7 linked regions of the Homo sapiens genome follow. The protein of the gene in region 7 purifies or fractionates together with the protein of the main gene of each other region. This does not show direct contact. Each region holds a gene or a part of one and is shown on either strand. Other genes may lie near its edges. The genes, in order: NCBP1, CACNA1C, BTRC, TTC9C, DHX9, POLD3 and ADAR.

Region 1 (3,500 bases), on a different chromosome or scaffold from region 7:
CTATGCTAGAGGCCCTGGAGACTAAGAAAGGACAGACTTGAGAGAAATTAGGGAGACAGAATTGACAGGGATTGGGAACACCTATGGTACGAGAGGGCAAAGGGAAGACAAAAATTAATGCTCAGCTTTCTAGATGGGTTATTCAGTACACAGTGGCCACTGTATGAGCTGGGGAGAGGGCAGAAAAAAGGAGGTATGAATGATGCATTAATTTAGGCACTTCCTAGTAAGGTATCTGAAGGCTATGCAGCTAGCATCTGGAATACTGGACTGGAGCTCAGGAGAAAGGTTGGAGATACAGTTACAGATTTGGGGGTATCGTCAAAATAAAGGTGGCTTATGAAGCTATGAAAGTGAATGAGAATGTTTTAGGAGAGCATTTTAAATTATTTGGTTGTAGTTCACCTTTTCCCTCCATCCCAACAGTAGTCATAACATACCAACAAACAAACTAACTTACCAAATACACGGCTTCATTATAATTGTTTGCTTTCAATGATTCTTTAAGTTGACGAATCATGGCTTCTACAAATTCTCCACCAAAATTGTAATTCCTGGCATTCAGTAGTCCAACTAATGTTGTATAAATTGTCAGCTTCTCAGGTAATAGGCGTGCACTGATTTAAGAACCCAGTATAACAAGAAAACCCCAAAACAATGGCGTTAAGTTGCTGAATTTTATGTGAATCTTTTTATCATTCCATTAACTTTGGAACAGGATTACTTTTAGCTATGTCTTTAAAAATACTTCAGAAAAAGCATGTCATTGAGAAATGTTACAGACATAGTCCCGTAATTTTTCATTTTAATTCATCAGTTAATCTAAGAGTTAAGAAAGTAAATGATTTAATTGTAAAGTTATCATACTGAAATAAATAAAACTAATGCTACAACAGTTTTTCTTCAAGTGTGCTTAGTGGAACTGAATAGCATTTCCACAGAACATGGTTTCCATGGTAAAATAGCTCAGAAATCCTGGGTGAAACAAGCCTCTTTAATACAGAATCATTAAGGGGGGGCGTGCAGCATTCAGAATTTCTAAACTTAGCTAACCAAATGTCATGGAACTAGAATTCTACTTTGAGAAACACTATTCTAGTTGTTTAGAAAAGATGCACAATTAAAACGAGTTTCATCTAAGTTCCTACCAGTTTAATTATTGAATTTTTTAAAAACATACTCTGATATAGTTAAGATTTGTTTACGTCTCAGTTGCTTACTCCAAGTGTGCTGATTTCATTAAAGTTATTTTAAAAGTATGGGAAAGGATTACAATAAACCTTTAGAAAAAGCAATTTTTCCTAATTTAGGCAGCCTTTAGAATTAGCTCAAAAAGCAATAAGAATTCATAATCATTAAGTGGGCAAGAGATTCTCTTTGACTTGTTTTCCTAAAGTACCTAGCAGAACATCAGGGACAATCAAGGTCTTCAAAAAAAATACCTGTGTTGATGGTAACTGTGGTCCCTGAAACCCTCCCAAAACCAAAAATTAAAAAAGAACACTGCGAAGCAATACAAGTTCAGCCTTAAACAAACAAGGCTTCCAACAGTTTAAGTGTAAATACTACTCCATTTTAATAAAGGATTTCAGAAGATTTCCTTAGTAGTTTCTTAAAGTTACCTTCACTTGATCTAAACTAAAAGGCTGAGAAGTGATAAACATCACCTTCATAATTTAAAAACACCTCATGGATACATTACAATTTCATGTAACTACAAAGACTCCCATTTATCCAGAGAGTATGCCTATTAACAGTGGCTTCCAAAGCATCTTCAGTCTTCCAAGAAGGGCTATTACCTGAGTTACCAATTCCCAAATTTGTCTGGTACTAATTTAAAAATGTAAGTATCATACATTTAAATGTACATGCTTAAAAATATATATCTGAATGAGACAGTATCTACTATCTCTATAAAAAGTCAACTAAAATGATTCTAAGGTTGTAAGAACATACAAGGAAAATGTTCAATTTTAGTTTTATCCCTAAGAAAAAGAGTTCGCCAAAGCGCCAAAGGTTGGCTCATTTGTACAAATTTCCCCATAGAAGTAAAGCCAAGGACATATAGAACATAAACATGTATTTTGAACATTTCCCAAAGCATTTAAGAGTAGATAATACATTATCACCTGGATTCATAAATCTTTTGCATACATACACTGTACAAAGAAGCCTTAAGATCTTGCTCTTGTAGTTAGGAAGATCAGCTTCCAAAACACCAGCCAAGCCTTCTAGGTTGCTCTCCAAAGAGCAGGCACTCTGTAGAGGACATCACATTAAATATCTGTCAAGTACTCAGCAACATAAATTTATTTTTAAAAATCTATTTAAATGTAAATATATACATATTTTAAAATCTATCATTTTAAAATCATTACCAATCATCTGTCCTTTCAATTGCTATTTTAGTGAACTAAAATAAAAACTTCTGCATGATCATTAAAATAGTCTTACATGCATACAGAGCTATAATGGGTTTAGTATAAATCAATTCAGATAGTTATTGTTCTTCAGAAATCCATGAAAAGTGGACGAGTGAAATTTAAAAACTAAGCAGTCTATGATAACAGAATAAGTATTAGAAATGGGAGGACACCATGGGCTCCATTTTACCTCTTTTACTAATTCACTCTCTTACTCTGGGCAAATTACCTCAAGTATTCAGGGCTGATTTAGTTCATGCATAAATTAAGGGGTCTATACCCTAGGTCCCTTCTAAGGGCTCATCTTCTATGAAAATTATTAATTACTAAAGTACTAAAAATGATCAATTATCTACATCCCAGGGGCTTCAACATGGATTCAATTTGGGATACAGATGCATGGTAATACCAGCTTTGCCAAAATGTAGTCCAACTTTTCAGCTGCAAAAATTAATCAAAGCACAGTTAACCACATTCTTAAACCCATCACAGCCTGTGCCTATTGTGTGACATACCTTTTCTCCTACTTTACATATTAAAGATTCCAAATGATCTTCAGTTTCATTTGCATCAGAGGTCTTTCTCCTTTTGTGAGGCTGCCCACCTATTTCAGCAACATAAAAAATTAACATTACATGATAAATCTGCTATCACAAATTTTATTTAACCTTTTTAGGTTATAATCTCTTTTCTACCAGGCCCTATGTTTTTACAGAGTAGAAGCTCTTCACAGACCCTCCATTTCTCAGACTAAGCTAGATTAACCAACAGCCTCCCATTCCCAGAGCCACTATATACAATAACTCCAGGAGGCATTATTTATGTTAAATTTTGTGTGAGTAGTGCCCATGGAGCTATGCAATCAGCAGCCCTGTCCATTTCTGTGGACAAGCTGGAAAGCTGCCAACAACATGTTAAACACTAGTAGTTAGAATACTCATGTACCGCTACTCCCATTCTTTTAACTTGAGTTGTTTACTGATCCTCAGTTGCTTGTTCCGAAACCTGTTAGTACCAGTAGTATTCATTAGTCTAATAATGTATTATGTAAATGACAAAATAAGGGTGCAAAACCAA
Region 2 (2,732 bases), on a different chromosome or scaffold from region 7:
CCATGGGCAGATGCTTACACGACCTCTTTGTGAAGCCTCTTCTGGGTTTAACTTCATTCATCAATTTATTCTTATGTCAAAGCAATGAAACTTTTCTTTCTGGAGCCAGATACCAATACAACAGGTGAACGGGTTTCTGCCACATCTCTACATTGACGGGGGATGCTTGAACAACCCCCCTCACTACACAGACACACACCGTTAAGGCACAAGGGCTGGGGTTGAGCTCTAGATGAGGGACTTTCCTGCTCCTGCAAGGGTGAGCACTGTATACACAGACAAGGAGGGTGCAGTAGAGTGACTCCCTTGGATGGAAGTAGTACCATCAGAACCTACTATTATTATGACATAAATTCTATTTACATACATTGAGAGAATACTACAATCAACACTTTTTCCTGGGATGACTTTAAGAGGTTTGAGCCACAGCACCTGAAGTGGCAAAGATCCATGGTCTTTGTAGGGTATTAGAGAACTCTTCCAGTCACCTCTGAAAGCACTCTAGATCTTGCAGCTGAGTGGATGAAGTGTAACAAATCTGTTGCACGCTGAGAGGAGTCAGAATTAGCATTTTTCATGAAAGTTCCCCACGTCTCTACTAAGAATGAGGAAGAAAAGACTAAGACTAGGTAATTACACAGAGGCTTGAAATGTTACATCACCAGAGCCAAGTCCTCTCCCTTCAGATCAGTTACTGGCTGCTACACAGGGACACCCCCACCTTTTCAGGGCATCCCATGCACTCCACTTCTCAGGATCTAAGGAATTTGACTTTGTAGGGATCCCAGAAAGGGCACTGTGCCACTTCCCCTGGTGTGAATCAGACATACATTGTACATTCATTTCTAAAATTCACTCATGCACCTCAAACCAAGGTCATTATCCAAAAAAAAAAAAAAAAAGCTCTGGGTGGAAGAGTTTGTAAGTTTTAAGAGAGGGTCATTTCTATGTGAGGAAATGCAGAAATGGACAGAATGATTCTTATTCACTGTTTGGGTCTGGAGAATTCCCATTGTGGAAATCTTAGAGATCTCAAGTTTATTACCAAGGGAATAAGGAAAAAAAGGTGAGCAGGCACCAGGCCAAGCAGTGGCTCCCTTGCCAAGGAACCTGAGGCTGCAGGTTTCAGGGACCCCCTTGAAGAAACCTCTCCTGGCCATTGGCCAGGAGAAAAGAGAAGTCTCTCCTGTAGAGTCACAAGAGAAGCAAAAGAGGGTGGGTCACTGGGTCCTGGACATAGCCCCCAACCCCAAGACTTCCCAATATGGAGAAACTACACCAATGTTTAAAAGGGGAAAAGGAAAGAACTTGTACATCAAGGGAAGATGATTTGTAAACACACAGTCCTGTGCAGAAAGATCCCCTTCAGGAGGTGTCTCCAGCATCCCAAAGCTGTGCGCACCTTCTCTTTTCCTGCCTCAGGCCACCTATGCATCCAGCTGCAGCCCATACCCACACCTGAAATCCATCTCTTGAATCCCAGCCAGGTTATATACCACCCCATTGCCATGTCCTGTCCTGGCCAGAATGCATGCTGTTCCCCCAAGCCTCGTGGGAGTGAGGCCATGGGAAACAGAGATGAGCATGTCTGGACAAGTCTGTGATGGTAGTGGATGAGAATAACCCATGGCAAAACACGCACATTCATTAAGAAATAGGGCGACAGATTCCCCGTTGGTGAAGCACTGAAAGGTCTATTACTCTCATAATATTGCTGTTTTATTTTAATCCACCAGAGCTACCATGCAAAACTTTCCTCCTGTGAAACGCTCCAGATAAAGCTCCTCTAATCTCCCCTTCCCTCATGTCCTCCAGCTCAAACCCACCTTCATCCCCCAAACCAATCTGTATCATGCCTGTTATCAGAGAGGCACAGAAAGATGGGCAGTGCCTCCGTTGTCACCATTCCCCACACCCCTACACACCCCCACACCCTCCCCTCCAGGCTCCACGACTTCACAGTCTTACTGTTGTAAATATCATTGTACAGTTTGTAATCCTCAAATAATCCCATTGTCAGAGGCCTCGCCTGATGGGCCTTCTCACCCTCGAGAAAGGCCAGGGAATCTAGAAGGGGCAACCCTTCAAGGAGAGCTTCAGGGTCATCTCTGTGTGAGACACTATTGTATATTCCTGTAAGATTGCATTTTTATCTAAGGAATGATGTTATTTAAAAAACAAACAAAAAACACAAAAAATAAGAATTGCAAATAAATTTCTTAACAATGTCTACATTGACTTCATTGTATCTTCCCTCTTCCTTATTTCTTCCTTTCTCCTGTTTCCTAGAGGTCACAAATACAAACTTCACTCAGTTATCTCAACTGTCTGGGATCCCCAAAAGGAAGAAGACTGGAGAGAACACAGGAAATATGAATCCAATGATAATACCTAAGTCCATTCAGCAGTTAACCCATCCCCTATTTCTTCCTTCTCATGAAAGAGTTGACAGAAAAATGGCCAAAAGTTAAAAAGGAGACAAAATCAGAGGAATTAAATGGCTAATTCACATGGATTAGACAGGAAAAGCAGTCTCTGAAATTGGTTTTGAAAGGACAGAAGGGAAGAGGGATGGAATGTAGGAGAGAAGAAAGGAGGGGGAGATATGATAATATATAAAGTACTATGAGGACTATACAAATGTAAGATTGCTTTTCTTTTTTTTTGTTATTATAACTTAATCTGATTTCGATAAACCTTTCAGAATAACCCCTTAAGTAAAAATAATTTGT
Region 3 (3,500 bases), on a different chromosome or scaffold from region 7:
AGGCGTGGTGGCTCATGCCTGTAATCCCAGCACTTTGGGAGGCTGAGGCGGGCGGAACACGAGGTCAGGAGATTGAGACCATCCTGGCCAACATGGTGAAACCCTGTCTCTACTAAAAATACAAAAATTAGCCAGGCCTGGTGGCGCGCACCTGTAGTCCCAGCTACTCGGGAGGCTGAGGCAGTAGAATCACTTGAACCCAGGAGGTGGAGGTTGCAGTGAGCTGAGATCGTGCCATTACACTCCAGCCTGGGTGACAGAGCGAGACTCTGTCTCAAAAAAAAAAAAAAAAAAAAAGGAAGCTATTTGAGCTAGCATCAAATAATTAGTGCACAGTACACATGGAAGAACTATCCTTTTAATCAAACGGGCATTTTTATTACTATTTGGCTTTGTTCTGGTCTTAACCTTTCCCTCAATTGTGAATCGCTAATGACAACTTTTATACAGATGTCATGATTTCCATGGTTTAAACAAATGTAAAATTAGTTTAAAATGCCAGAATGAAATGGATACTCTCACAAATTTGCTCATTGCTATACTAAAGTGCCTTGATAAAGAATTTTACAATAAAATCCTGTTAATAAGACTGCTGATTCAGAGATGACCATAATTCACACGTGATCGAGACTTAAAGCTTATTGTTTTACTTGTGAAAAAAGTTTAAGCAGAATGTTTAACTTTTAAAAACAAATAAATGATATTGAAAGCAACGGTTTACATTAACTTACGTGCTAATGTCTCTCATTCAGCTTTAGCAGGTCCTCAAGGACCTTTCTTAATACTTTTTTGGTTAACAAAAGTATAAATGGAAACTTGAAGAGAACCTAAGAAGAGAAATGAAAATGATTGAGGGAATATAGACCCCAAAACACACAAACACACACACACAAGCACGTTTAAGATAGGGGTTGAAAAGACATACTGAGGAGGAATTTGAACTTTATTTTTGTTTTCACCTTTGAGACAGGGTCTCACTATGTTGCCCAGGCTAGAGTGCAGTCATAGCTTGCTGCAGCCTCAAACTCCCAGGCTCACATGATCCTCCTGCCTCGGCGTCTCAAGTGGCTACAGGCACACACCACTATGCTGGCTATTTTTTTTTTCTTTTTTGTTTTTGTAGAGACAAGGGTCGCCCTTTGTTGACAGGGGTGGTTTTTGAACTCCTGGGCTCAAGGGGTCCTCCTGCCTTGGCCTCCCATTGTTGGGATTACAGGCGTGAGCCACCTTGCCAAGCCACGTTTATTTTTAAAAACAGGATAAATATATTCTTGTCCAGCCAATCCCAGAATCAAGTACAGTAGCTTGAAATAGATGAAATAATTTTAGAATGTATTGTTTTATTTATAGAGCTGATAGATAAATGAAACAGTATAAAGGGTAAATATTTGCTGTTTAACAGACAACCTCAAAACTTAGCTTAAAAAAAACAATTATTTTTCCCCTCAAATCTGATGGTTTTTCTGCTTCACTTGGTATTGGCTGAGGTGTGGGAAAGACCTTCACTTCTCCTCTATATGGGCCTTTCTCTACCTGGCTGCTTGGATTTCCTTAAAGTGTGGTGGCAAGGTTCTAAGAAGGGACATTCCAGGAGACAGGAGGTAGAGACTGCCAGTCTTCTAAATCCTAGATTTGGAAGTCCAAGAATGTCACTGTGGGTCAAAGCCAGTCAAGGCCAACTACAGAGGGAGGAGAAATAATGTCTACCTATTGATAGGAAGGGTGGCGTGCATAAACAAGGAAGGGGGAATTGCTGGGGGCCACCTTTTGAGACTTGCTACCGTAGGTGCTATGCTAGTTGGATGTTAAGGCTAAAAATAAAAATGGTATCGGCCAAGTTTGTGGGTCATAATGCTAGGAATGTTTAGGAGGCATCTCTTTTTTTGAGGTTAACTTCGGAAGGCACTAACATGATCTCCTGCGTGACTTCCCTTAATGATGTCACTGTTGACATAATACTGGGTGAATTAATGTGATTAAGTAAACTTGCTTACTTACTTCAGGAAACAGAGGTATCTAAACAGATTACATTTTAAAATAAATTGTCAGATGTTTCACTGTAATGGAATTTTCTTTACATCAGTGAAATTGATTACCAGGTAGTGGGATGAACATCTGAAACTAGTTCTTAGTTTAAGTTGTCTGAGTTTTTGTGTATACTTTACCTATTCCCAGTTTAAATTGGCTTTCAAACAGTTTGTTTTCTGGGTACTCTTATAGGTGTTGGGGTATGAAATTAGTGGTAATTCTTTTTGCCTATTTTCTTTTTTTTTGTCTGAGATACCCTGAGTCTCGCTCTGTTGCCCAGACTGGAGTGCAGTGGCACAATTTCGGTTCACTGCAACCTCCGCCTCCTGGGTTCAAATGATTCTCCTGCCTCAGCCTCCTAAGTAGCTGGAATTACAGGCGTGTACCACCTTGCCTGGCTAATTTTGTTGTATTTTTTTTTTTTTGAGATGGAGTTTTGGTCTTGTTGCCCAGGCTGGAGTGCAATGGTGCAAACTCAGTTCACTGCAACCTCTGCTTCTGAGGTTCAAGTGATTCTCCTTCCTCAGCCTCCCCTGTAGCTGGGATTACAGGCATGCACCACCACACCCAGCTAATTTTGTATTTTTGGTAGAGACAGGGCTTTTCCATGTTGGTCAGGCTGGTCTCGAACTCCCAACCTCAGGTGATCTGCCCGCCTTGGCCTCCCAAAGTGCTGAGATTACAGGCGTGAGCTGCCGTGTCCGGCCTCTTTTTGCTAATTTTCTAAATTTATGTTTATAGTAGATTTTCATAAATTATCAAAAGTGAATTATTAGATGTGGAGTAAAAATTCAACTTTGAGTAGTTTTAGAAATTATTTATTGCTAAATTAGAAAATAAACTTTCAAAAGAGATCTCTTTTTTTTAAAAAAACTTAATTGAGACAGGGTCTCACTCTGTCACCCAGGCTGGAGTACAGTGGTGCAACCTTGGCTCACTGCAGCCCCTACCTCCTGGGTTCAAGCAATTCTTGTGCCTCAGCCTCCCAGGTAGCTGGGAATACAGGCATGTGCCACCACGCCCAGCTAAATTTTGTGTTTTTAGTAGAGACAGGGTTTCACCGTGTTGCCCGGGCTGGTCTCGAACTCCTGACTTCAAGTGATCCGCCCACCTTGGCCTCCCAAAGTGCTGGGATTACAGGCGTGAGTCACTATGCCTGGCCTAGAGATGGGATCTGCTTTTTTTTTTTTTTTTTTTTTGAGATGGAGTCTTGCTCTGTCACCCAGGCTGGAGTGCAATGGCACGATCTCAACTCACTGCAACCTCCGCTTCCCAGGTTCAGGCAATTCTCCTGTCTCAGCCTCCTAAGTAGCTGGGATTACAGGCACCTGCCATCATCCCTGACTAATTTTTGTATTTTTGTAGACGGGGTTTCACCATGTTGGCCAGGCTATTCTTGAACTCCTGACCTCAGGTGATCCGACCGCCTCGGCCTCCCAAAGTGCTGGGATTATAGGCATTAGCTACCGCGT
Region 4 (3,500 bases), on a different chromosome or scaffold from region 7:
TCAGAGGTATAGGGTTAATTTCTCTTGCTGAGGCTCAGATTTCTCCTTCATGCATGTTTAATGGTCCACCTAAGTTCAACTGGAGGAGCATCTTTCTTCTTTGTTAACCAAACATGCCCAGGTAGAGCTGCTTCTCTTTTCTATGGTAGCTGCTGAGTTCTGACTGTGTCAGCTGGAGGTACCGCCGGACGTTGGCATCTTGGAAGATGATGGAGAAGCAATTAGAAACAGTTAGAGTCAGTTAAGACCATAATCATACCTTGTGGCAGGAGAGAATGTTAACATGCTCCCATTTTAAAATCTCTCCAAGATCTGAATATATCGCAACCATTCTATGCAATAGTAAATCTCATTAATTAATAACATTTGGAATTGAAAAAAAACAATCTCTGTCCCGGCTGCTAATTTTTATTTATTTATTTATTTATTTATTTTATTTATTTACTTACTTTTGAGACAGGGTCTCGCTCTGTCACCCAGGCTAGAGTGCAATAGCATGGGATCTCCACTTACTGCAACCTCCGCCTCCCGGGTTCAAGCAATTCTCATGCCTCAGCCTCCCAAGTAGCTGAGATTACAGGCATGCACCACCATGCTTGGTTAATTTTTGTATTTTTAGTAGAGATGGGGTTTCACCATGTTGGCCAAGCTGGTCTGGAACTCCTGACCTCGTGATCCACCCGCCTTGGCCTCCCAAAGTGCTGGGATTACAGGTGTGAGCCACCATGCCTGGACACTGGTTGCTAATTTCATAATGAAAGCAAGATTGATGAAGCAGTTATCATTAAAATAGAGCCTCTAAAGATACTATTCATATAGGTGGCAGTTAATTTATGTATTGGATGCTGAGAAACATGAACAAATGGCTTATATTTTATATCTTTATTAATTCATAATGGCTTTCTCATTCATTTAGATGAGATTTTACTGCACTGCTATACATTTGGTGACTCTGCTACTAGTATCCAGTGGCTATTGTAAGCCAGAATGCAAAAGGGAGACAATTTTCAGTGCTCAACCAACCAACACAGGAATGAGTCTCTCATCTGCTTCACAATATCCTTTTTGCCTTGGAAACAAAGTAAGTCCCAAATTCTCTCTCAGCAGGACTGCCCTTTTTCTAGGTCATACCTGGGGTTAGCTGAGCTAAAGGATAAAAATGATAGCTAAACCAAAGGCCAGACCCCATTTGGAGAACTGGCAGAATGAAAATTATCAAGTGTATTTGTTGGCATTCACACATCCTATTCCAATCACTGTTTTTTTGTTTTGTTTTGTTTTGTTTTTGAGATGGAGTCTCCCTCTGTCTCCCAGGCTGGAGTGCAGTGGCGCGATCTTGGCTCACTGCAAGCTCTGCCTCTCGGGTTCACACTATTCTCCTGCCTCAGCCTCCCGAGTAGCTGGGATTACAGGCGCCCGCCACCACGCCCGGCTAATTTCTTGTATTTTTACTAGAAACGGGGTTTAATCATGTTAGCCAGGATGGTCTCGAACTCCTGGCCTCACATGATCCGCCCACCTTGGCCTCCCAAAGTGCTGGGATTACAGGCATAAGCCACCATGCCCAGCCTCCAATCACTCTTAAAGACCAGGAACAGAACTTGAAAAACGACACTCGCTTTTTTTTTTTTTGGGATGGAGTCTGGCTCTGTCGCCCAGGCTAGAGTGCGACACAATCTCAGCTCACCGAAACCTCTGCCTCCTGGGTTCAAGCGATTCTCCCTGCATCAGCCTCCTAAGTAGCTGGGATTACAGGGGCCTGCCATCACGCCCAGCTTTTTTTTTTTTTTCCGAGACGGAGCCGCCCTCTGTCCCCTAGGCTGGAATGCACCGGCAGGATCTCAGCTCACTGCAAGCTCCGCCTCCCAAGTTCATGCCATTCTCCTACCTCAGCCTCCTGAGTACCTGGGACTACAGGCCCTCACCACCACGTCCGGCTAATTTTTTGTATTTTTAATAGAGACGGAGTTTCCCCATGTTAGCCAGGATGGTCTCGATCTCCTGACCTCGTAATCCGCCCACCTCGGCCTCCCAAAGTGCTGGGATTACAGGTGTGAGCCACTGCGCCCGGCCACACCCGGCTGATTTTTGTATTTTTATTTTTTTTAGTAGAGATGGGTTCCGCCATGTTGGCCAGGCTGGTCTTGAAATCCTGACCTCAGGTGATCTGCCCGCCTTGGCCTCCCAAAGTGCTGGGATTACAAGTGTAAGCCACCGTACCCAGCCCCAAAAAACAACACTGTTTTTTTTTTTTTTTTTTTTTTTTGAGACAGAATCTCGTTCTTGTTGCCCAGGATCTCGGCTCACCGCAACCTCCGCCTCCTGGGTTCAAGCAATTCTCCTGCCTCAGCCTCCCGAGTAGCTGGGTTTACAGGCATGCGCCACCATGCCTGGCTAATTTTGTATTTTTAGTAGAGATGGGGTTTCTCCATGTTGGTCAGGCTGGTCTCAAACTCCTGACCTCAGGTGATCCACCCACTTTGGTCTCCCAAAGTGCTGAGATAACAGATGTGAGCCACCCCACCTGGCCTGCCTATTTTATATATATATTCATGTATATGTATAAATATATACACTGTATATTTATAAATAAAAGCACGTTGATATACATATATTTATATATTAGAATAGGCATACATACATATATGAAACAGACATACCAACATATATATTGTGTATGTCTGATTAAGCATCAACCCCCTACACATGAAACTAATAATACTGCTTTTCTGTGGAGACAAGAACACAAGAGTGGAAAAAGGTCTGTTCATCGTATACTTTTTCAGTTCGAATTCTCAACCATGTGAATGTATTACTTATTGAAAATAATACATTGGCAAAGTAAAATAAAACCCCCTTTCCACAGATCCACCCCAGCAAGACAATTTTGTCTTTACCATTTCAAAGCCCTTCTTGCTTACCTTTAGGCTGCCTATTCACGGCAGCCAGGAGGTAGTGGCGGGCCTGGTCATAGTCCTGCAGATGGAAAAAGGCCACTCCGGCCCGATACAAGGCCTTGGCATTATCAGGCTGTCGTTCCAGGACTTTCTGACTATATTCTCTCACTCGTTCGTAGTTCACGGGCTCCATCTGAAGGAGACAAGCTAATGGGCCAAATGAAAAGAGAGAAGAGGTAGGAGGGGCTCGTTACACCAGGTTCCACTGGCCAGCTCAAGACAGTACTGAACAGGGTGGTAACAACATTCAGTCAACAAATGCTAAAGTGTCTCCCATATGCCAGACACTCTTCTACACACTGGGGATGCAGCAGTGAATAAAAGCTTCACATATCGGCCAGGTGCAGTGGCTCATGCCTGTAATCCCAGCACTTTGGGAGGCCGAGACGGGTGGATCACCTGAGGTCGGGAGTTCGAGATCAGCCTGACAACATGGAGAAACCCCGTCTCTACTGAAAATAAAAATTAGCCAGGTGTGGTGGCGCATGCCTGTAATCCCAGCTACTCGGGAGGGTGAGGCAAGAGAATCGCTTGGACCTGGGA
Region 5 (3,500 bases), about 28 Mb from region 7:
CAAGATATGGCGGAGGCAGCAGGGAGCTCCCATGCCCTGCCTCGAACACCATTCTTCAGGAACCTCCACCTGTTCGGCCATTTGGAAGCCCTCCAAACCCTGTCCTTTGGTTTTTATGGAAACTTCATTATTCAGTATTGATTAAATCGTTGGCCATTGGTGACTTGACCTTCAGCCCTTCTCACTTCCCCAGAGGCTGGGAGGTGGGACCGAAAGTTTCAGCCCTCTAATCTTTCCTTGGTGGTTCTGGTGACCATCCCCCCACACCTGAAGCTACCTAGGGCCTGCCAGCCAGCAGTCAACTCGTTAGCATACAGAAAGTCTCCACTTAGGAGATTATAAGGATTTAGGATTTCTATGCCAGGGAAATGGGATTGAAGACCAGATGTACTTTTTTTTTTTTTTTTTGAGATGGAGTTTCGCTTTTGTTGCCCAGGCTGGAGTGCAGTGGCATGATCTCGGCTCACCGCCACCTTTGCCTCCGGGTTCAAGCGATTCTCCTGCCTCAGGCAGGAGTATCTGGGATTACTGGCATGTGCCGCCATGCCCGGCTAATTTTGTATTTTTAGTAGAGACGGGGTTTCTCCATGTTGGTCAGGCTGGTCTCCAACTCCCAACCTCAGGTTATCTGCCCGCCTTGGCCTCCCAAAGTGCTGGGATTACAGGCGTGAGCCACTGAGTCCAGCCAGAGACCAGATAGGCTTTAAAGATAATATGACACTGTCTACTTGCTGTTTTCTGTAAGAAGTCAGCTATAATCAAATCACTCTCTCCCATATGTAATGTGGTAGTCTGTGTTTTTAAGATCTTTTCCTGTTATTTTTGGTTTTTAGTATTTTGTGTTGTGACCGGGCATGGGTTTTTTTGTATGTGTGTGTTCTAACTTGTTCAAGGTTTGCTGAGATTATTGAATCCATAGATTTATGTATTTCACCAACTTTGAGAGACTTAGCTATTATTTAAGATATTTTTTGTTTTATTTTTTCTTCTTTCCTCTTGGTGTTTATATTTATAAAGACTTGATATCCCACAGGTCCCTGAGGCTCTCTTTTTTTTTTCCTATCATTTTTTCCACTGTTTCTCAAATTGAATAATTTTTATTGATTATCTTCAGATTCTTTGATAGTTTTTTCTGTCCCTTCCATTTTGCTAAGCCCACCCAGTGTATTTCAGACACTACCTTTTTCACTTTTAAAATCTCCAGCTTATTCTTTTCTGTATGTTTTCTCTGGTGGCATTTCTTTTCATTCGTTATAAGTGTATGTTTGTAATATAAATATGGATTTCTTTTATGTCATGAAGCTTAATTCTAATAGCTGCTTTAAAATCCTTGCCTACTACTACTAACATCTGAGTCATCTCAGGGTTGGATTCTCTTGATAGGTATATTTTCTTGAGGTTGGATCACATTTTCCTCTTTGTGTATCAAATAATTTTTTATTGCATTCTGGGCATTGGAATATTATGCTGTGGAGACTCTGAATAATGTTATACTCCTCCAAAGAGCATTGATTTGGTTTTTTTGTTTTGTTTTGTTTTGTTTTTAATCAGGCATTTAATTTAACTGGACTCAAACTGCAAATGCTGTCTTTTGGATGTTAACTCAGATCTCACCTCAGTTTTCTGATCATTTAGGACAGCCATGGAAGAGTCCTTCAGGTCTCCTTTGCTGGGCAGCTTGGAATCTGCCCTGTACATGAGTGGTTTTCAAGGGTTAGCCAGAGATTTCAATATACAGAATTCGGGGCTCCTCCTCTCTGGCTGTTTCCTTTCCAGCATTCCCTCACTTTCTAGCAGCTTTGCTTTCCCTGAACTCTAATTCTGATTCTTCAGGCCAAAAAGATGGTTTCATTGGAGGTTTAGCTGCCTGGGATGGCTTCTCTCAGGCTAAAAGCTACAGTAAACTGGAATTAGACCCTTGATACTCCGTGCTTCCCCATTTTAACTTCTCTCAAGAATCTACCTGCTTTTTTCGTTCATTTTTTATTGCCTGCATATAGTTCTGGTGTGTTGTGTGTGTGTTTGTATTTTTTCCCCCTAAAGTTTATTTTACCTGCAGGAGGGTCAGTCTTACAGGAACTTACTTGGCTACAACCAGAAGTAATCCCCTAGGTGATTTTTTTATTATTGTTTTAACATGGCTCAGGTGTTTCCTATTAAATGCTCTGTGGATTTCCTACTTTCTTCCTTATTTCCTCTGTTCCAGCTACAGTAGCTGTACTTCTTCATAGGTCTTCAAATAAGCCCTCATCTTTCTGCCTCAAAACTTCTATACCTGAAGGACTCTTCCCCAGCTGTCCTATTTAACATTATAAACATTGTCACCCTCAGGTTACTTCCTAAACTCCTTCAATGCTTTATTTTTCTCCGTAACACTTACTTTTTAACTCAGTGTTTCTCAACTGGAGACCATTTTGTCCCCTCAAGGGATGTTTGGGGATGTATGGAGATATTTTTGTTGTTGTAACTCGAGGAGGCCACTGACATCTAGAAGGTGAAGGCCAGGGATGCTGCTAATGACCTACAATGCACTTGACAAACTCCTACAACAAAGAATTAACCAGCCTAAAATGTCACCAAGATGAGAAACCTTGTTCCAACGTAATTTATTTTTGTTTCATTGTATTAGAATGTAAGTTCGTGAGGGCAGGGATTTTTTTGTTTTTAGTTCGTTGCTGTGTCTCCAACATTTAGAATGGTTCCTGGTCTATAGCAGATACTTAAATGTTTTTTGGTTGACTGAGTAAATGAATGGATGAATTTGGAAAAAAAAATTATAACAACCCATTTCTACTTTTAACCCCACTGTATTATTAGTCCATTCTTGCATTGCTATAAAATACCTGAGACTGCATAATTTATAAAGAAAAGAGATTTAATTGGCTCACAATTATGCAGGCTTTACAGGAAGTGTGGTACTGGAATCTGCTTGACTTCTGAAGAGGCCTCAGTAAACTTAGAATGATGGCAGAAGGTGAAGGGGAAGCAGGGATGTCCTACATAGCAGGAGCAAGAGAAAGTAAAGGGGAAGATGCCACACACTTTTAAATGACCAGATCTCATGAGAACTCACTCACTGTTGCTAGGATAGCAGTACCAAGGAAAGTGGTACTAAACCATGCATGAGAAACCCACCTCATGATCCAGTTACTTCTCACCAGGCCCTACCTCCAACATTGAGGATTAAAATTTGACATGACATTTGGGCAGCGATACGTAACCAAACTGTTACCAGCTACCATCTTTATCTTACCTCCTCATTCTAGGGAAATCCTTTTTCATAATCACTTATTTCATCTGGAACTTACCCTTTCATGCCATAAATTGCATTTGCCAAAAGTGAGCATGTAGAGGATATTTTAAAATTTTTTTTGCTGTGGACAATTGTAGATGTGTATAAAAGAATAATATAGTGAAACTCCATGTTTCCGTCATCTGGCTGCAACACTTTCAATTTTACTCATTTCTAACTACTCCCCTTTCTTAGATTATTTTGGAGC
Region 6 (3,500 bases), on a different chromosome or scaffold from region 7:
TTTTACAGTCAACTTTTTTTATAAGTAGAAAGACTACCCTCTAAAATGATAAAAAGTATAGTGCAGTAATTATAGTAGCATAGTCATTTTTATTATCAAGTATTATGTATATATAACTATTAATATATATGATATACTTTCACATGACTGGCAGCACAGTAGGTATATTTATACCAGCATCATCACAAACACGTGAGGAATGTGTTGCGCTACCATGTCATGACAGCTATGATGTCACTAGGCAATGGGAATTTTTCAGCTCCATTATAATCTTACGAGACCACTGTCATATATGCAGCCCATTGTTGACCCAAACATCGTTATGCAGCGCATGAGTAATCTTATGAAGTTAGCACAATTTTGACACAGCAACTTGATAAAGACATTACCAGAAAAGAATGTAACTGACCTGTAGACCTCATAAACACAGGCAACAAATGCTTAGTGTAATATTAACAAATCTAATCCAGCAATATATAAAAAAGGATAATACATCATAACCAAGTGGAGTTTATCCCAAGAACACAAGGTTGGCCTAACATTTTAAAATCAGTGTAATTCACCACATTAATAAAAACACCATCTGAGCATCCAATCAATTCAAAAAAGCATCTGTCCAAAATCAATACCCACTCATGATAAAACCTCTTAGCAGACTTGGAACAAAAAACAACTTCCTCAATCTGGTTAACGGCATCTATTAAAAATCTACATTTATCATCACATTTAGTAGTGAAATACTGAATGCACTGCTGGCAATAAGTATCAACAGTGAGTGACGTACCCATGGTTGTGGACATTTTAATCCATACAAGTCATATGTTCCTAGGTGGTGAGGCCCACTGGACAGAGCTTTAACCCTCTAAAATTTCACCATTTTGTTGATGTTTTCAACGAGAGTAGTCCCAAACTTGCCACAAAAGTCGTCTTTCTAGGCCTATCAGTGTTGACAGTGTCCTTTAGAATTTCTTTCAGCAGACTAATTCTACCAACTATGAGGTAGTGTCTCCAATTCCTGGATCTAGTTTTAATAGCTTTATGTGCTTTTTATTTTCTTTTCTAATTACATTTTACCACTTGAAAAATAAACTCATTGATATAAAAAGAAAACAAAGAAGTTTTTCTCTTAAATTTGACTGGAAACAGTAACTGTTCATTTGGCAATTTGAAGTGAAACACACACACACACACACACACACACACACACACAACTAGGCACACTTATGCCATGTCCACAAATTTAAAACAAAAATCAACAATCAATTTAGATCAATACGGCCAAAAACACGACTTTGGTCCTTAAATCATCCAAACTGGCTGATCCTACGGTCCTACTCCACTAGATAAGCTACTGGGCTTCTCTTTCCATTTTGGTTGTATAGTTGTATCCCTTAGGCATTAAGTAGGATTTAGTACTTAACTGAAAACTGCCTGCTGTCAATAAGCCCAAAGAGACCTTCTCACCCCCAGTAAAGACTCTTCCCCAATAAGCAACAAAATTTTCCTACCTTTTTTTTTCCTTCTGCAGCACCTTAACAGGCTCTGCTTTTTTGCTGGATTTTTTCAGGCCTGCAGGAGTTGCCAGCTTTGGTTCCGTGACAGACACTGTAGGCTGCTCCACTATTTTTTCTTCTTTCACTGCTTGTTCTGAGTCCAAATTGACTTTAAATTTATCTATAAATAAAGTATAGCAGACGACATATGACCCCATCATGCAATATTAATACATCATTCTTTTGACAGTCTACCATGTGCCAGGTAATATGTTAGGAGCAGGGGCAAAAAGGAGCTCATGGACTATTCAGAAACATTCCTCCTTTCCAACTACCACTCTAACTGTAACTTTTCATTTCTGCCTCCTGCTAATCCCTCATTGTATCACAGCCCCCAGGCTAAATGATAGTAAAAGCAAGGCTTAGAAAAAACACATACAACTTTATGAGGCATCATCCTTCTCATTTTCAGATGAGGAAAATCAAGAATCAGAAGGATTACAAGATGTTTCCCAACAATACACAGTTTACAAATGGTGACAACGATTTGCAGCAAGACCTTTGCTTTCTATATATTCTATCTTTTAATGCCTGGATACCCTTAATATCTCACTACTACCTTAATGATAAAATTTAAAGACTATTTTGGAGTCAAAGAAGTTTGGTTCAAACCCCGCTTCACTCTGGGCAAGTTATTTTATCTAAGTCAGTCTTTTCTAAACCTGAGATAATATTTACAAGATTATCATAAGGATTAAAAGAGATCAGTATTGGTTAAATGATTTATCCAGGTAACACTGACAGAAAAGAGTAGGGATTTGAACCAAAGTCAGTTTAACTCCTCAAAGTCCTTAACCCTTTCCCTACACCAAGCTGAAGAATGACTACAGTGCAGCAGGGAGAACTAAGAAATGCAAACAGGCCTAGCCATCTGAGGAACTATAGAAGCATGTCATCTAGCCTTCACGCTGTACTTAGTGATAGCTTTTCACAAGTAAAGGCACAAAATACTATTAGAAAGCTGTCATTAGCTGGAGGTGCTTCAATAAGTAGTTTTGGTTATATGTTGTATAATAGCTTAAACCATCTACAGTGTAGAAAAAAATTGGTATCATAGTCTGGGCTATTATGCATAGCTTAGTACAATAATTTATAAATAATGTGTATTATTTGAAGGGTAGTTGATGGACCAAAGTGTAAAATGCAATCTATTTATACTTTTCTTTTTCCTGAAGACTTGAATGGAAAATGCGAATGGTGGAATCCACCTTCCCAACGATGGCATACTCTTGCATTTTCAACTGTTGTTCTCAAGTATCAGTGCCTCTCAAATATCCCAAATTGTATAGAAGAGTAAACATGCATCTCCAGGGGTCTAGGGGTCAACAGCCAATCCAAAAAATACAGTTCACTGGAGTCACATGTGTAGCTTTAAAATTTATGCAAATTTTGCAATCTATCACATAAATTATATTGTTTTAATAGCAATTGTTTTAAAAATTGCATCATTAGGAGAAAAAAACCTCCAAATACTTCCTACCTACCTATGGATTAAGGAAAGAGAGGCTATTGCATTGAGTTTACCAATTACAGAAAACTGATCTGAATTAAAATGCCACTGATCAAACATTAGATTCAGCATCCAGAGTTTCTTCTGTCTTGGTTTCACAGAATTTTGAGAACTCCAACTTAAACATATATGCAGCTACCAATAGCCAATTAACTGGTAAAGAGGTAGTTTAATGCAACATTGTAAGGCAATTATTAAGGAAAATTTAATGACTTTTTTTGTTACCTGAATGATCAAGTCACCTATCTTCTAGCTGATTAAAAGCATTTCCTTTTTATACTCAAGAAAACACGAAACCTTTTCAAGCAAATAAAGATAACCAATTATGACCTTTAAATTTTGTCATCAATGCTGAATTTTATTACATATAAAGCGTTACTTTTAAAAATTGAGATATAATTCACATACAATAAAATTCATCACTTTACATTCAGCGT
Region 7 (3,500 bases):
CTAAAAATATTGGCCTTACCAAGGCCCGAGATATAAATGCTGTGCTAATTGACATGGAAAGGCAGGGGGATGTCTATAGACAAGGGACAACCCCTCCCATATGGCATTTGACAGACAAGAAGCGAGAGAGGATGCAAATCAAGAGAAATACGAACAGTGTTCCTGAAACCGCTCCAGCTGCAATCCCTGAGACCAAAAGAAACGCAGAGTTCCTCACCTGTAATATACCCACATCAAATGCCTCAAATAACATGGTAACCACAGAAAAAGTGGAGAATGGGCAGGAACCTGTCATAAAGTTAGAAAACAGGCAAGAGGCCAGACCAGAACCAGCAAGACTGAAACCACCTGTTCATTACAATGGCCCCTCAAAAGCAGGGTATGTTGACTTTGAAAATGGCCAGTGGGCCACAGATGACATCCCAGATGACTTGAATAGTATCCGCGCAGCACCAGGTGAGTTTCGAGCCATCATGGAGATGCCCTCCTTCTACAGTCATGGCTTGCCACGGTGTTCACCCTACAAGAAACTGACAGAGTGCCAGCTGAAGAACCCCATCAGCGGGCTGTTAGAATATGCCCAGTTCGCTAGTCAAACCTGTGAGTTCAACATGATAGAGCAGAGTGGACCACCCCATGAACCTCGGTAAGAGACCACCCAGGAACTGTACCTAGGGTTGGGGTCAGGTGCTTTTGCTCCTGACGCAGTCTTGGCTGATTTGTGAGCAGTGCTGTTTGGTGGCGCCTATCTTTTCCTCCTTCCCTTCTGCCTTTTAGCTAAATTCCCCTTGATTGGCCCTTTCTCCAGATATTGAGCAGGGAATATAGACCTTGGACCAGCCAGAATCTTGGCTGAACAAGGGGGAGGTTGACTCTGTTGGCTGTAATGAAGCTTCTTTAGAAATGATTGGTTTTGGCCGTACGCGGTGGCTCATGCCTGTAATCCCAGCACTTTTTGAGGCCGAGGCAGGCATATCACGAGGTCAGGAGTTTGAGACCAGCCTGGCCAACATGGTGAAACCCTGTCTCTACTAAAAATACAAAAATTAGCTGGGCGTGGTGGCGTGCACCTGTAGTCCCAGCTACTCAGGAAGCTGAGACAGGAGAATCACTTGAACCCAGGAGGCAGAGGTTGCAGTGAACTGAGATTGCGCCACTGCACTCCAGCCTGGGCCACAGAGCAAGACTCCATCTCAAAAAAAAAAAAGAAAGAAATGATTGGTCTTGGGGGCCGGGGCGGTGGCTTACGACTGTAATCCCAGCACTTTGGGAGGCCAAGGCAGGCAGATCATGAGGTGAGGAATTCGAGACCAGCCTGGCCAACATGGTGAAACCCCATCTCTACTAAAAATACAAAAATTAGCTGGGGGTGGTGGTGCTTGCCTGTAATCCCAGCTACTCGGGAGGCTGAGGCAGGAGAATCACTTGAACCCAGGAGGTGGAGGTTGTAGTGAGCCGAGATTGGCGCCACTGCACTCCAGCCTGGGCGACAGAGTGAGACTCCATCTTGGAAAAAGAAAGAAAAAAGAAAAACATGATTGATCTCCATGCATCAATATCATGCCTGCCTCCTAAGGCAGAGGTAATGAAGACTTAATTCCCTTCTGTAGGCCTTCCCCTCCTCCCTAAGCCGTTTTCTGAGAGAGGTGCAGGAGCAGGTGGGTTGGGGCAGGCTGCATACACAGTGGGGGTGGGTTGTGCTGCTAAGCAGCAGCAGGTCCACAATCCCCCCTCTGCATAGCTCCTGGGGGGAAAGGATGGAGGAGCGTGTGCACGGCTGCCTGCCTGTTGAAGGTGGTGGTTCTAATTTTATAAACCTCCTCTGCACAGATGGGTAGGCTAGCACTTGCTGCCACTCCTGAGCTGTGAAGTCAGCCTTTACCTCACTCAGATAGCTGGTCAGGCCCTGCACTGTAGGTCCTAATAGGCCAGTGGACAGATTGAGGAAAACAGGAGCTTCTGAAGGGCATAACAGAGAGCAAAACCACTGAAGCTGAGTGGCTGCAGCTGCAGCCAGGGAAAGAGCCAGTAGGATGGGGGAGAATTCCACTGACCTTTATGTTTACCTAGCCTGGTTTCTAGGGGTGTAGATTCCTGGCTAGGGCCCTTATTCCTTGTCTTGACTGTCTTCATGACACCAATTTGGCATTTCAGGAGAGCGGTTAAGAAAAGGAGTTGTGTCTGTCCAAAAGCTGGCAAGGCCAGAGCTGGATTGTTTGGGGTAGAGACTGGATGGCCGTCATTCTCTTTTGCCTCCATCCCTCCTCCCCAGAGTTGGAGGAAAGCAGTGGATTTTGTGGTTAGTCATTCTTTGGACTCACACTAAAAGAAACATTGGTGCCATGTTCAAATATATCAGAAGACCTAGGAAATAAGAAATTTGACCTACTTTTCTAAATGAAATCCCAGACTGAGCAAAGAGCTCACCACATTTGAAAGCTTGAACAAAGGGGGCCTAGGCTAAGTCCAGAGGCCTAGAACAAATGCTTTTTTATTTTCTACATAACAAGGGGAAATTCCTTGTTATGTAGAAAATAGCTGGAGACAAATGGTGCTATAGAGTGACTCATAACAAACTACGGTGATATAGGTCTAGGGACAAAAGCAGGCCACTGATAAGTGGCAGATGCCTGATCCCCCTAGGTAGTGGGGAGTGTGAGACTGGGTTATAAGAAGCCTTCACTATCTTTTAGGACCCTCCCTTGAGGAGGCCAGTCTACCACAATTGCTTTAGAATGAAGGTCTTTTGGTTGCTCACAAGACTATAATGGTAATTTTTGGCTCATCATTTTTGTGTGTGTGGGTTTTATCTTAATTCATTGTTAAAGAGATAGTGGGTTTCCCCTGAGCTAGTTTCCTATCATCTGTGCCTATGTTTGCTTCACTGAGCTATGGGGAAAGAGTCACTGGCTGCTTTGTTTACAAAAAGAAAGGACAGGCTGAGCCTTAAGGAGTAGGAAGGAGTTCCTTGGCCTACCCTTCATCTCCACAAGTGAAAAGCCCCTTAGCGTAGCAGAAAATTCCAGGTTGAAGGTCTCTTTGGAGAAGGCAGAAGGAGTGACCTAGACTCCTGTTCACACATCTAATCACTTTCCGTCAAGATTTAAATTCCAGGTTGTCATCAATGGCCGAGAGTTTCCCCCAGCTGAAGCTGGAAGCAAGAAAGTGGCCAAGCAGGATGCAGCTATGAAAGCCATGACAATTCTGCTAGAGGAAGCCAAAGCCAAGGACAGTGGAAAATCAGAAGAATCATCCCACTATTCCACAGAGAAAGAATCAGAGAAGGTAGGTGTCCTCCTGCCATCTGGGAGGATCAGTTCCCTGTCAGTGTCTGGATTGTAACTGACTCCCTTGAGGCAATCCCAGCCTAAACAACTGACACCATCTCGGAGTCAGCTTCCCACTCTTCCCTCTACCCTATCTCGCCAGCCCACCTTTCCTCCTCTCATACCCAGCTCCTCTGTCTGCTCCTGTCCCAACATAATTGGATTTACAGAATT

Evidence for each region.
Region 1: the proteins of ADAR (region 7) and NCBP1 purify together in Homo sapiens (co-immunoprecipitation; one large-scale study listed by IntAct). This does not show direct contact.
Region 2: the proteins of ADAR (region 7) and CACNA1C purify together in Homo sapiens (co-immunoprecipitation; one large-scale study listed by IntAct). This does not show direct contact.
Region 3: the proteins of ADAR (region 7) and BTRC purify together in Homo sapiens (affinity purification with western blotting, with the first as the bait; 2 studies listed by BioGRID). This does not show direct contact.
Region 4: the proteins of ADAR (region 7) and TTC9C fractionate together in Homo sapiens (co-fractionation; one large-scale study listed by BioGRID). This does not show direct contact.
Region 5: the proteins of ADAR (region 7) and DHX9 purify together in Homo sapiens (affinity purification with western blotting; 3 studies listed by BioGRID and IntAct, with this or other methods). This does not show direct contact.
Region 6: the proteins of ADAR (region 7) and POLD3 purify together in Homo sapiens (tandem affinity purification; one large-scale study listed by IntAct). This does not show direct contact.

What each region holds. Positions count from the first base shown.
Region 1 is NC_000009.12:97,640,321-97,643,820, reverse strand, and holds part of NCBP1 (nuclear cap-binding protein subunit 1), read right to left. Parts: intron 3,028-3,500; coding exon 2,939-3,027; intron 2,260-2,938; coding exon 2,159-2,259; exon of another isoform or gene 2,153-2,158; coding exon of another isoform or gene 2,130-2,152; intron 618-2,129; coding exon 461-617; intron 1-460. UniProt on the Homo sapiens protein: Component of the cap-binding complex (CBC), which binds cotranscriptionally to the 5'-cap of pre-mRNAs and is involved in various processes such as pre-mRNA splicing, translation regulation, nonsense-mediated mRNA decay, RNA-mediated gene silencing (RNAi) by microRNAs (miRNAs) and mRNA export.
Region 2 is NC_000012.12:2,695,719-2,698,450, forward strand, and holds the end of CACNA1C (voltage-dependent L-type calcium channel subunit alpha-1C), read left to right. Parts: 3' UTR 1-2,232; downstream 2,233-2,732. UniProt on the Homo sapiens protein: Pore-forming, alpha-1C subunit of the voltage-gated calcium channel that gives rise to L-type calcium currents. Mediates influx of calcium ions into the cytoplasm, and thereby triggers calcium release from the sarcoplasm.
Region 3 is NC_000010.11:101,357,165-101,360,664, forward strand, and holds part of BTRC (F-box/WD repeat-containing protein 1A), read left to right. Parts: intron 1-3,500. UniProt on the Homo sapiens protein: Substrate recognition component of a SCF (SKP1-CUL1-F-box protein) E3 ubiquitin-protein ligase complex which mediates the ubiquitination and subsequent proteasomal degradation of target proteins. Recognizes and binds to phosphorylated target proteins.
Region 4 is NC_000011.10:62,734,986-62,738,485, reverse strand, and holds part of TTC9C (tetratricopeptide repeat protein 9C), read right to left. Parts: intron 3,105-3,500; coding exon 2,922-3,104; intron 199-2,921; coding exon 104-198; 3' UTR 1-103.
Region 5 is NC_000001.11:182,845,847-182,849,346, forward strand, and holds part of DHX9 (ATP-dependent RNA helicase A), read left to right. Parts: intron 1-3,500. UniProt on the Homo sapiens protein: Multifunctional ATP-dependent nucleic acid helicase that unwinds DNA and RNA in a 3' to 5' direction and that plays important roles in many processes, such as DNA replication, transcriptional activation, post-transcriptional RNA regulation, mRNA translation and RNA-mediated gene silencing.
Region 6 is NC_000011.10:74,623,582-74,627,081, reverse strand, and holds part of POLD3 (DNA polymerase delta subunit 3), read right to left. Parts: intron 1,675-3,500; coding exon 1,509-1,674; intron 1-1,508. UniProt on the Homo sapiens protein: Accessory component of both the DNA polymerase delta complex and the DNA polymerase zeta complex.
Region 7 is NC_000001.11:154,598,187-154,601,686, reverse strand, and holds part of ADAR (double-stranded RNA-specific adenosine deaminase), read left to right. Parts: coding exon 1-646; intron 647-3,101; coding exon 3,102-3,285; intron 3,286-3,500. UniProt on the Homo sapiens protein: Catalyzes the hydrolytic deamination of adenosine to inosine in double-stranded RNA (dsRNA) referred to as A-to-I RNA editing.